2 separate regions of the Homo sapiens genome follow, and region 1 is linked to region 2. Evidence: fine-mapped expression QTL. Tissue or cell type: whole blood. Region 2 holds a variant in brackets; the other region holds the start of a gene. All regions are shown on one strand. Distances are between the middles of the regions.

The links. PIP is the estimated chance that this variant, and not a neighbour inherited with it, causes the effect.
Region 1: it holds the start of LGALS1, and the variant in region 2 is fine-mapped to the expression of LGALS1 in whole blood (TOPMed, PIP 0.96).

The regions. Positions count from the first base shown.
Region 1 is chr22:37,673,376-37,677,533 of GRCh38, reverse strand. LGALS1 (galectin 1) reads right to left here and starts at 1,898. Exons shown (of 4, transcript NM_002305.4): 1 at 1,823-1,898; 2 at 469-548. The coding sequence starts at 1,831. RefSeq lists an enhancer at 1-82 and silencers at 1-435, 1,956-2,095.
Region 2 is chr22:37,583,600-37,587,757 of GRCh38, reverse strand. No RefSeq gene overlaps it. Among named protein-coding and RNA genes, the nearest start is that of LGALS2, 5.6 kb to the right of the region's middle. The variant G/A (reference allele first, on the strand shown) is at 2,239.

The DNA.
Region 1 (4,158 bases), 90 kb before region 2:
AAGGTCACCTAACTGCCGAGAAAATAAGGCAGCCGTCTGAGTGAATGAGAAGTGAAGGAAGAAGGACCGGACTGAGCCAGTGAATGAATGAATGACCAGACGCAGGAAGGAGGGACTCAGGGGGAAGGCGGCGGTGACGCCCGCCCCACTCCTCTCCCCGCCCTCCCCAGCGACAGGTCCCGCCCAGACCGGAAAGGGGTGGGGGCGGGGGAGTCAAGGTATTACAGATGACGAGGCTGCAGCTGGTTTAGTTTAAGAGGCTACAGCAGGGAGGGAGCGGGGGAGGGGGCGGCAACGGTGGGGGCGCCCAGACCCTGCGGGGGAAGTGAGTCACCCAGAAAACGCAGCATCGGCGGCTGGCCGTTAACCCGCTCCCGGCCAGGGAGGAGATGTGGGCTTGGCCGGCCACGCCCTCCCTGCTGGACCAAGCCCGTCCCTGCCGCCCACCACCCCGACTTCACTTCTCACCTCTTAGCGTCAGGAGCCACCTCGCCTCGCACTCGAAGGCACTCTCCAGGTTTGAGATTCAGGTTGCTGGCGACCAGACCCTGCACAGACAAGCCCCGGCCCAGCCGGGTTAGAGGACAAGGCCTCCACTGCTCGAAGTGTCCGGGGGTGGCTGGGGGTGGGAGTGGGGTTGTTCCCGCCCGGCATCCTCTGACCAAGCCAAGGGGAAGCCTGGGGAAAGGATTGAGCTGTAATTTCCAGCCTCCGATTGTCTATGTGGTCCTGGGAAAGTCCCTATTCCCACCGGGGTTGGCTTCAGTCTGTAACGTGAAGGTTCTAGAAGACAGGCTCTAGAAGATTTTGCAGATTGGCTTGGGAATTTTGGACTCAAGAGTGACTTGGGAGATGGGGTGCTCTGTCCCATCGCAGATGGAGAGGATCAGGCTGGGGAGGGGCCGACACTTGGCCCACCGTCACACTGAATGGAGGGGCCGGCCCCTCTGCTGGAGAGGAAGTGGCTAGGGGCGGGCGACCCCACTATTCTCCTTCAAGCCCCTCTCTGCAAAGAGGCCCAGGGGCTAGAGAGGAGACCCTGAAAAACACGGCCTCTCTGCATTAGGGAGAATAGCCCTGCAGTCGGGCTGTGGCTGGGCTGGCTCAGGGTTAACAAGATTGAGCAAACTGCTGGGCACTGCTGTTCCCTGGCACCCCGAGTGGGTGGGCAAGAGTTAACTGGTTTGAGTGGTTTCTTCTGCCAGAAACTTGAACCCTTTCCCTGGGGCCCGAGGAAGATTCTCACCTCCCTGCCACCCCAACCTCCCAGCTTGGGGGTGGTGGAAGGGAATTTCCCCCGCCCCCCCCGCCACCAGCCTGGACACAACCACCCTCCACCCCCGACCTAGAAGGGCCCATCCTGGGCAGCTTGTCTCGGGTCCTGGCAACTTTTCAGCGTTCTCTGGAGCAGAGGGTAACTCTGCCCTGGCCTGGTGACCGGGACAGCTGCAGGGGGGAGGGGACAGGAGGCTCTTTGGGGTGGAGGAGGGGGAAAGGGATAGTGGCCTGGGTGTCCCCCAGTTGGCCACACCCTTCCCACGCTCACTTCTCAGAGAGCTGCAGAATGTCAACCCTGGGCAGAAATAACTGTGCTTTCAGACCCTGGAGGAATCCAGACAATTATCAATGCAGAGAAGGCCTTGAGGGACCATGGCGCCCACCCCCATTTTACAGATGTGGCCACTGAGGTCCAGAAAAGAGAAGGCACTGGTTCCAGGCCACACAGCTGGGGCTAGAATCTGCTCCCGATCTGCCCAGCTCTCCTCTGGCCATCAGTTCCTGCCCTATCCCCTGGACCTTGGGGGGGGGTCCCCACACTCACACAAGCCATGATTGAGTCCAGGAGGATGTTCCCGGGCAGGCGCACCAGCTGTCAGAAGACTCCACCCGAGAGAGATGGGCCCCCGGACGCTCCCACCCTTTTAACTGGACCGGACCGGGTGAGCCCCGCCCCCTGAAAGTTCAGCCAATTGCAAGTCAGGATAGGGCTGGGGGCCACTGGGGGCGGAGTCCGTGGAATTTTGAAGCCAGTTTTGGAGCAGAGGTGACCAATCAGAGTGGCGAGCTGCTGCCCCCCCTCACCCCGCCGCCCCCGGCCAGAGTCCAAGCTCCACCTCCTATTCTCCTTCATCCCTCTCCACCTCCCCACCAAAATTGTGCTGTGGCAGAGATTGGGGGAAGCCAGTGGAAAATAGTTTGATGATGAGCTAGGCCCACAAGTTGGCGGGAAGGGGCCTGTGGCCAGCAGGCTGGGCTCAGGGGGTGCCCAGAGAAGATGGCTGAGGAGGTGCAGGGTCCTTCAGGGAATCAGAGCTGGGGGAGACCAGGCCACTCCCGGGCAGGGACCAGGGCGTGGCTCCTGCTGCGTGCGCGTCTGCAGAGGGCCACTGACTTAACCACAGGCCCTGGCCCCACCCGGGCCTTCCCCGGAAGCAAGGACTGCGGCTGCTGCAGCGCTCTCTCGCTGGCTCCTCGGGAAGGCTAAAGAAAGGCTGGGCCGGGCGCCAAGCCTGAGGCTGCAGGGCTTGGCTAAGGCCTCGGGCTTGGCCGCGTTCAGGGGCAGGCAGGGGATAGTCAAAGCGCCCTGGCCTGACAGCCTCAGGCCTGAGAGTGTCAAGCTTAGGAGATGGCCCAGGGTGGTCCAGACCAGGAGGGGGTGGGGTCCTGGCTCTGTGCACCCTGTCCTTTCTCTTTTTTATTTTTATTTATTTATATATTTATTTTTGAGATGGAGTCTCGCTCTGTCGCCCAGGCTGGAGTGCAGTGGCGTGATCTCAGCTCACTGCAACCTCTGCCTCCCAGGTTCAACTGATTCTCCTGCCTCAGCCTCCCGAGTAGCTGGGACTACAGGCCCCCACCACCACACCCGGCTAATTTATGTACTTTTAGTAGAGACGGGGTTTCACCACGTTGGCCAGGCTGGTCTCAAACTCCTGACCTCAGTTGATCCACCCGCCTCAGCCTCCCAAAGTAATGGGATTACAGGTGTGAGCCACCATGCCTGGCCACCCTGTCTGCTCTCTTAACATCTCCTCTGAGGCCCGGCACAGCCCTCCCTTCCCTGAGTGTTCAGCAGGTATTTTACTGAGCACCTACTATGTACCTGGCCCTGGGCTCTGAGGATTCAAAGCTGAACCCCTCCCAGTCCCCACTCTCAAGGAGCGCATAGTTGGGGTGGAATCTGACCACAACCACGTTAAGAAGTAGATGATGGGCTGGGCGCAGTGGCTCACGCCGGTAATCCCAGCTCTTTAGGAAGCCGAGGCGGGCGGATCACCTAAGGTTAGGAGTTCGAGACTAGCCTGACCAACACGGAGAAACCCCATCTCTACTAAAAATACAAAATTAGCTGGGCATGGTGGCATATGCCTGTAATCCCTGCTACTCCTGAGGCTGAGGCAGGAGAATCGCTTGAACCCAGGAGGCAGAGGTTGCAGTGATCCGAGATCAGTCTATTGCACTCCAGCCTGGGCAATAAGAGTGAAACTCAGTCTCAATTAAAAAAAATAAAAAATAAAAATAAAAATAAAAAGAAGTAGATGATGATGGCTGTAAGGGAAGCCATGAGAAAGTGCTATGGTGGGCTGGCGGCTGCATGAGTAAAGGAGGTGGGTCGTGAAGGGTAGGCGGAGAAGTGCCTGGCTTTCCACCATGGGCAGAAGCTCCAGAATGAGAAGGCCAGGGCTGGAGAACAGTGTTCCGGGCATGTGGGGGAAAAACGGGGATGAGGCTGGGAAGCCAACAGGACCTGGACCATGGAGGGCCTCATGGGCTGGGCACAGGGCTTGGACATTGTTGTATGGGAGGAGGCTGGGGAGCCAGGGCTAGAGGGAGGGTGAGTACTGAGGCCAGATTTGGGCTCTAGGGAAGATCACTGTGGCAGAGAATTGAGGGTGGGTGGGAGGGGTGCTCACCTTACACTCAGGAACCTGGTGGAGGAAGGGGCGTGGGGAGCACTGGGCAAAATGAGGGGCATGCTGGGGGGTTGTCACGGGGACCTCCTTCTCCACCTGGCCGTCCCCCTTCTGAAACTGCTGGCACCAAAGAGGGACGAAGATGCGGACCAGGAGTGACTCACATCTGGAAGCCAGGCCAACACACCCACCCTGCCTCTCAGGGGCACCTTCCTCCAGATGCCCAAAGCCCACTCTGGTACAG
Region 2 (4,158 bases):
AGTGATTCTCCTGCCTCAGCCTCCCGAGTAGCTGGGATTACAGGTGCGCACCACCACGCCCAGCTAATTTTTGTATTTTTAGTAGAGACGGGGTTTCTCTGTGTTGGCCAGGCTGGTCTCGAGCTCCTGACCTCAGGTAAGCCACCCACCTCAACCTCCCAAAGTGCTGGGATTACAGGTGTGGGCCACCACGCCAGGCCTCTTTTTTCTCCTTTTTTGAGGCAGAGTTTCACTCTGTCACCCAGGCTGGAGTACAGTGGCACAATCTCGGCTCACTGCAACCTCCTGGATTCAAGCAATTCTCCTTTCTCAGCTTCCAGAGTAGCTGGGCTTACAGGTGTGTGCCACCACGCTTGGCTAATTTTTGTATTTTTAGTAGAGACAGGATTTCACCATGTTGGCCAGGCTGGTCTCGAACTCCTGAGCTCCCTCTCCCTGACTCCCCTCTCCCTCCACACCAGTTGCAAGTCTGAGCCTCTGGACTTCAAGTTGGGGATCCCACGACCCCTCTTTGGGTTCAGTTAATTTGTTAGAGTGGCTCACAGAAGTCAGGGAAACATTTGTGTGTACTGGTCTATTATAAAGGATGTTATAAAACATACAGATGAAGAGATGTTTAGGGCGGGTTATGGGGAAGAGATGCAGAGCTTCCCCTCCCACCTGGGAGCACCATCCTTCAGGACAGCCATGTGTTCAGCTATCTCAGAAGCTGCCCAAACCCAATCCCCTGGGGCCTTTTATGGGGACTTTATTATGCCGGCATGATTGACCTCTGTGTAGAACTGTGAATGGGCAAAAAGGATCTGATCTAATATTACTAGACGAAGTGTGGAACCCCCGCAAGGCCCGTCTGTTCAGATTCTTCTTGGCCTCTCTGTGCAGCATTTCTTACTCCAAGGGATGGAGCAGGACCCCTTCTGAAATGAGGGTCTTATGACAAGGTAGGTCAGGGAATTTCTTTTTTTTTTTTTTTTTTTTTTTTGAGATGGAGTTTTGCTCTTGTTGCCCAGGCTGGAGTGCAATGGTGCGATCTCGGCTCACTGCAATCTCTGCCTCCTGGGTTCCAGAAATTCTCCTGCCTCAGCTTCCCGAGCAGCTGGGATTACAAGCATGCACCACTACGCCTGGCTAATTTTATATTTTTAGTAGAGATGGGGTTTCTCCTTGTTGGTCAGGCTGGTTTCGAACTCCCAACCTCAGGTGATCCGCCTGCCTCGGCCTCCCAAAGTGCTGGGATTACAGGCGTGAGCCAACGCGCCCTGCCAGGGAATTTCTTTACGGAAGAATTTCTGTGTTTTTTTTTTTTTTTTGAGATGGAGTCTCATTCTTGTCACCCAGGCTGGAGTGCAATGGCGTGATCTTGGCTCGCTGCAGCCTCCCAGGTTCAAGCGATTCTCCTGCCTCAGCCTCCTGAGTAGCTGGGATTACAGGTGCGCATCACCGCGCCCTGCTAATTATTTTGTATTTTTAGTAAAGACAGGGTTTCGCCATGTTGGCCAGGCTGGTCTCGAACTCCTGACCTCAAGTGATTCGCCCGCCTCAACCTCCCAAAGTGCTGGGACTACAGGTGTGAGCCACTGTGCCTGGCCAGAATTTCTGTTCTAAGAAAGAAAGGCAGGGGGAGATTCCTACCTTGAGGAGAGAAAGGAGCAGGTGAAGGAAGGACAGCCAAAGGTCAGAGATTGATTCTGTTTTCTGAGGCCTGTTCCTGAGGCCTAAAGCACCCCAACATTATAACAAAAGACTAACAAATGCTGTGAGAGTTATGAGTTAGAAACCATGGGCAAAACCTATTTTATGTAATAATAGTATCACAGCACCCATCCATCCATCCGATTGTCCATCCATCCCTCTTTTGAGTTAAAACTGACATGATAAGGAGCTCAATCCAGCCAAGAGCTGAGGAAGAATTCCAGGTGGAAGGAACAGCAAGGACATAAGGCATGAGACTAGAATGAGCCTGGTGAATTCAAGGGATAGAGATGTCAGTGTGGCCAGGGGGCAGGTGGCGTGAGACGGGGCTAAGAGGTGGACCAGACCCGATCGTGTGGGGCTGGTTAGCTGAGAGGGGAGTTTGGATTTCGCTGTAAGTGCAAGGAGAAACCTGGAGGGTTTAAAGCAGGAGAGTGGAATGTTGTCATTTACATCTTACAAAGAACCAGTGGTTGGTGGAAAGACTGTGGGGGCAGGAGTGGAGAAAGGGAGAAAGCTCGGTGGCTTTGGCCCACTCCCTGCTAA[G/A]TCTCCAAATTCCTTCCTCCTTCAAGGCCCCACCCTGATTTCAGGTGAGATGGGATGACCCCAGAGCTCCAGGGGACCTGGGTGGTCCTGGAGGGACACTAGCTGGGGATGGGTGGCCAGGCATGGCCAGTGGCTGCTGTGTAGAGAGGGGCCCCGGACCCGGCCATCAAGTTAAACAGGAAGATCCCTGGGCTGGATGAGGCGAGAGCTCTGTGGAAGTCCCCTGAAGGAGGGACGGTCAGCTCATCAGAGCTGCAGGAGCAGGGGACCCCCCCTCAGGCAGCCTAAACATCCTGGAGACCTGATGGTCATATATATAATTTATTTATTTATTTTGGGTCGGAGTCTTGCTCTGTCGCCCAGGCTGGAATGCAATGGCATCATCTCGGCTCACTGCAACCTCCGCCTCCCAGTTTCAAGCAATTCTCCTGCCTCAGCCTCCTGAGTAGCTGGGATTACAGGTGTCAGCCATCGCACCCAGCCCATAGGTTAACTTTTTAAATTAAAATTAAGGCTGGGCACAGTGGCTCACACCTGTAATCCCAGCCCTGTGGGAGGCCGAGGCGGGTAGATCACGAGGTCAGGAGATCGAGACCATCCTGGCTAACACGGTGAAACCCCGTCTCTACTAAAAATACAAAAAAATTAGTCGGGCATGGTGGCGGGCACCTGTAGTCCCAGCCACTTGGGAGGCTGAGGCAGGAGAATGGCGTGAACCCGGGAGGAGGAGCTTGCAGTGAGCCAAGATCGCGCCACTGCACTCCAGCCTGGGTGACAGAGCAAGACTCTGTCTCAAAAATAAAATAAAATAAAATAAAATAAAATAAAATAAAATAAAATTTAAAAAAATTCTCACAACCACCCTGGGACGAAGGTGCTGTTAGCTCCCTTTCACAGATGCAGAAACGAGGCTTGAAGCAACCTGTCATGGCCACTTAGCTTGTAGGTGACAGAGCCGGGACTGGACATTATCTATCTGTTGCTGAAACCTCTGTGTTTCCCACACCCCACCAGTAACTGAGGGTCTTCCCAGTCCCTCTGTGTGCTGCTGGGGAGGGCTCGGCAGAGAGGGAAGCAAGAGTTAAAATGGATATTGCCGGGGTGTTGATCTGTTTGTTCTTTGGGAGGAGGACAGCAGAGGACACAGTAGGGGTCTCAGGGATGTCAGGACCAAAGTCTCCCAATAGCAGGAGCCCCGTGGGAAGCTGTGTGCACCACCAGGCTCAGCAGGCATGATGCCTCAGGCCCATGACACCAAAATGTTTTAATTTCTTTTCTTTCTTTCTTTTTTTTTTGAGATGGACTCTTGCTCTGTTGCACAGGCTGGAGTGCAGTGGCACTATCTCAGCTCACTGCAACCTCCGTCTCCTGGGTTCAAGCGATTCTTCTGTCTTAGCCTCCCGTGTACCTTGGACTCCAGGCGCACGCCACCACACCAGGCTAATTTTTGTATTTTTAGTAGAGATGGGGTTTCACCATATTGGTTGGGCTGGTCTTGAACTCCTGACCTCAGGTGATCCACCTGCCTCGGCCTCCCAAAGTGCTAGGATTACAGGCGTGAGCCACTGCGCCCAGCCTAAAATGTTTTAATTTCTTATACAATCAGAAAAAAATAAACTTTTAGGTTGAAGAGAAAATATATACATATTTTTTGAGACCAAGGTCTTACTCTGTCACCCAGACTGTAGTGCAGTGGTGTGACCATGGCCGACTGCAGCCTTGACCTCCTGGGTTCAAGCGAACCTCCCACCTCAGCCTCTCCCGTAGCTGGGACTACATTTGTGCTCCACCGTGCCAAGCTAATTTAAAAATATCTTTTGTAGCCAGGCGTGGTGTCTCACACCCGTAATCCCAGCACTTTGGGAGGCTGAGGCAGGCGGATCACCTGAGGTCAGGAGTTTGAGACCAGCCTGGCCAACA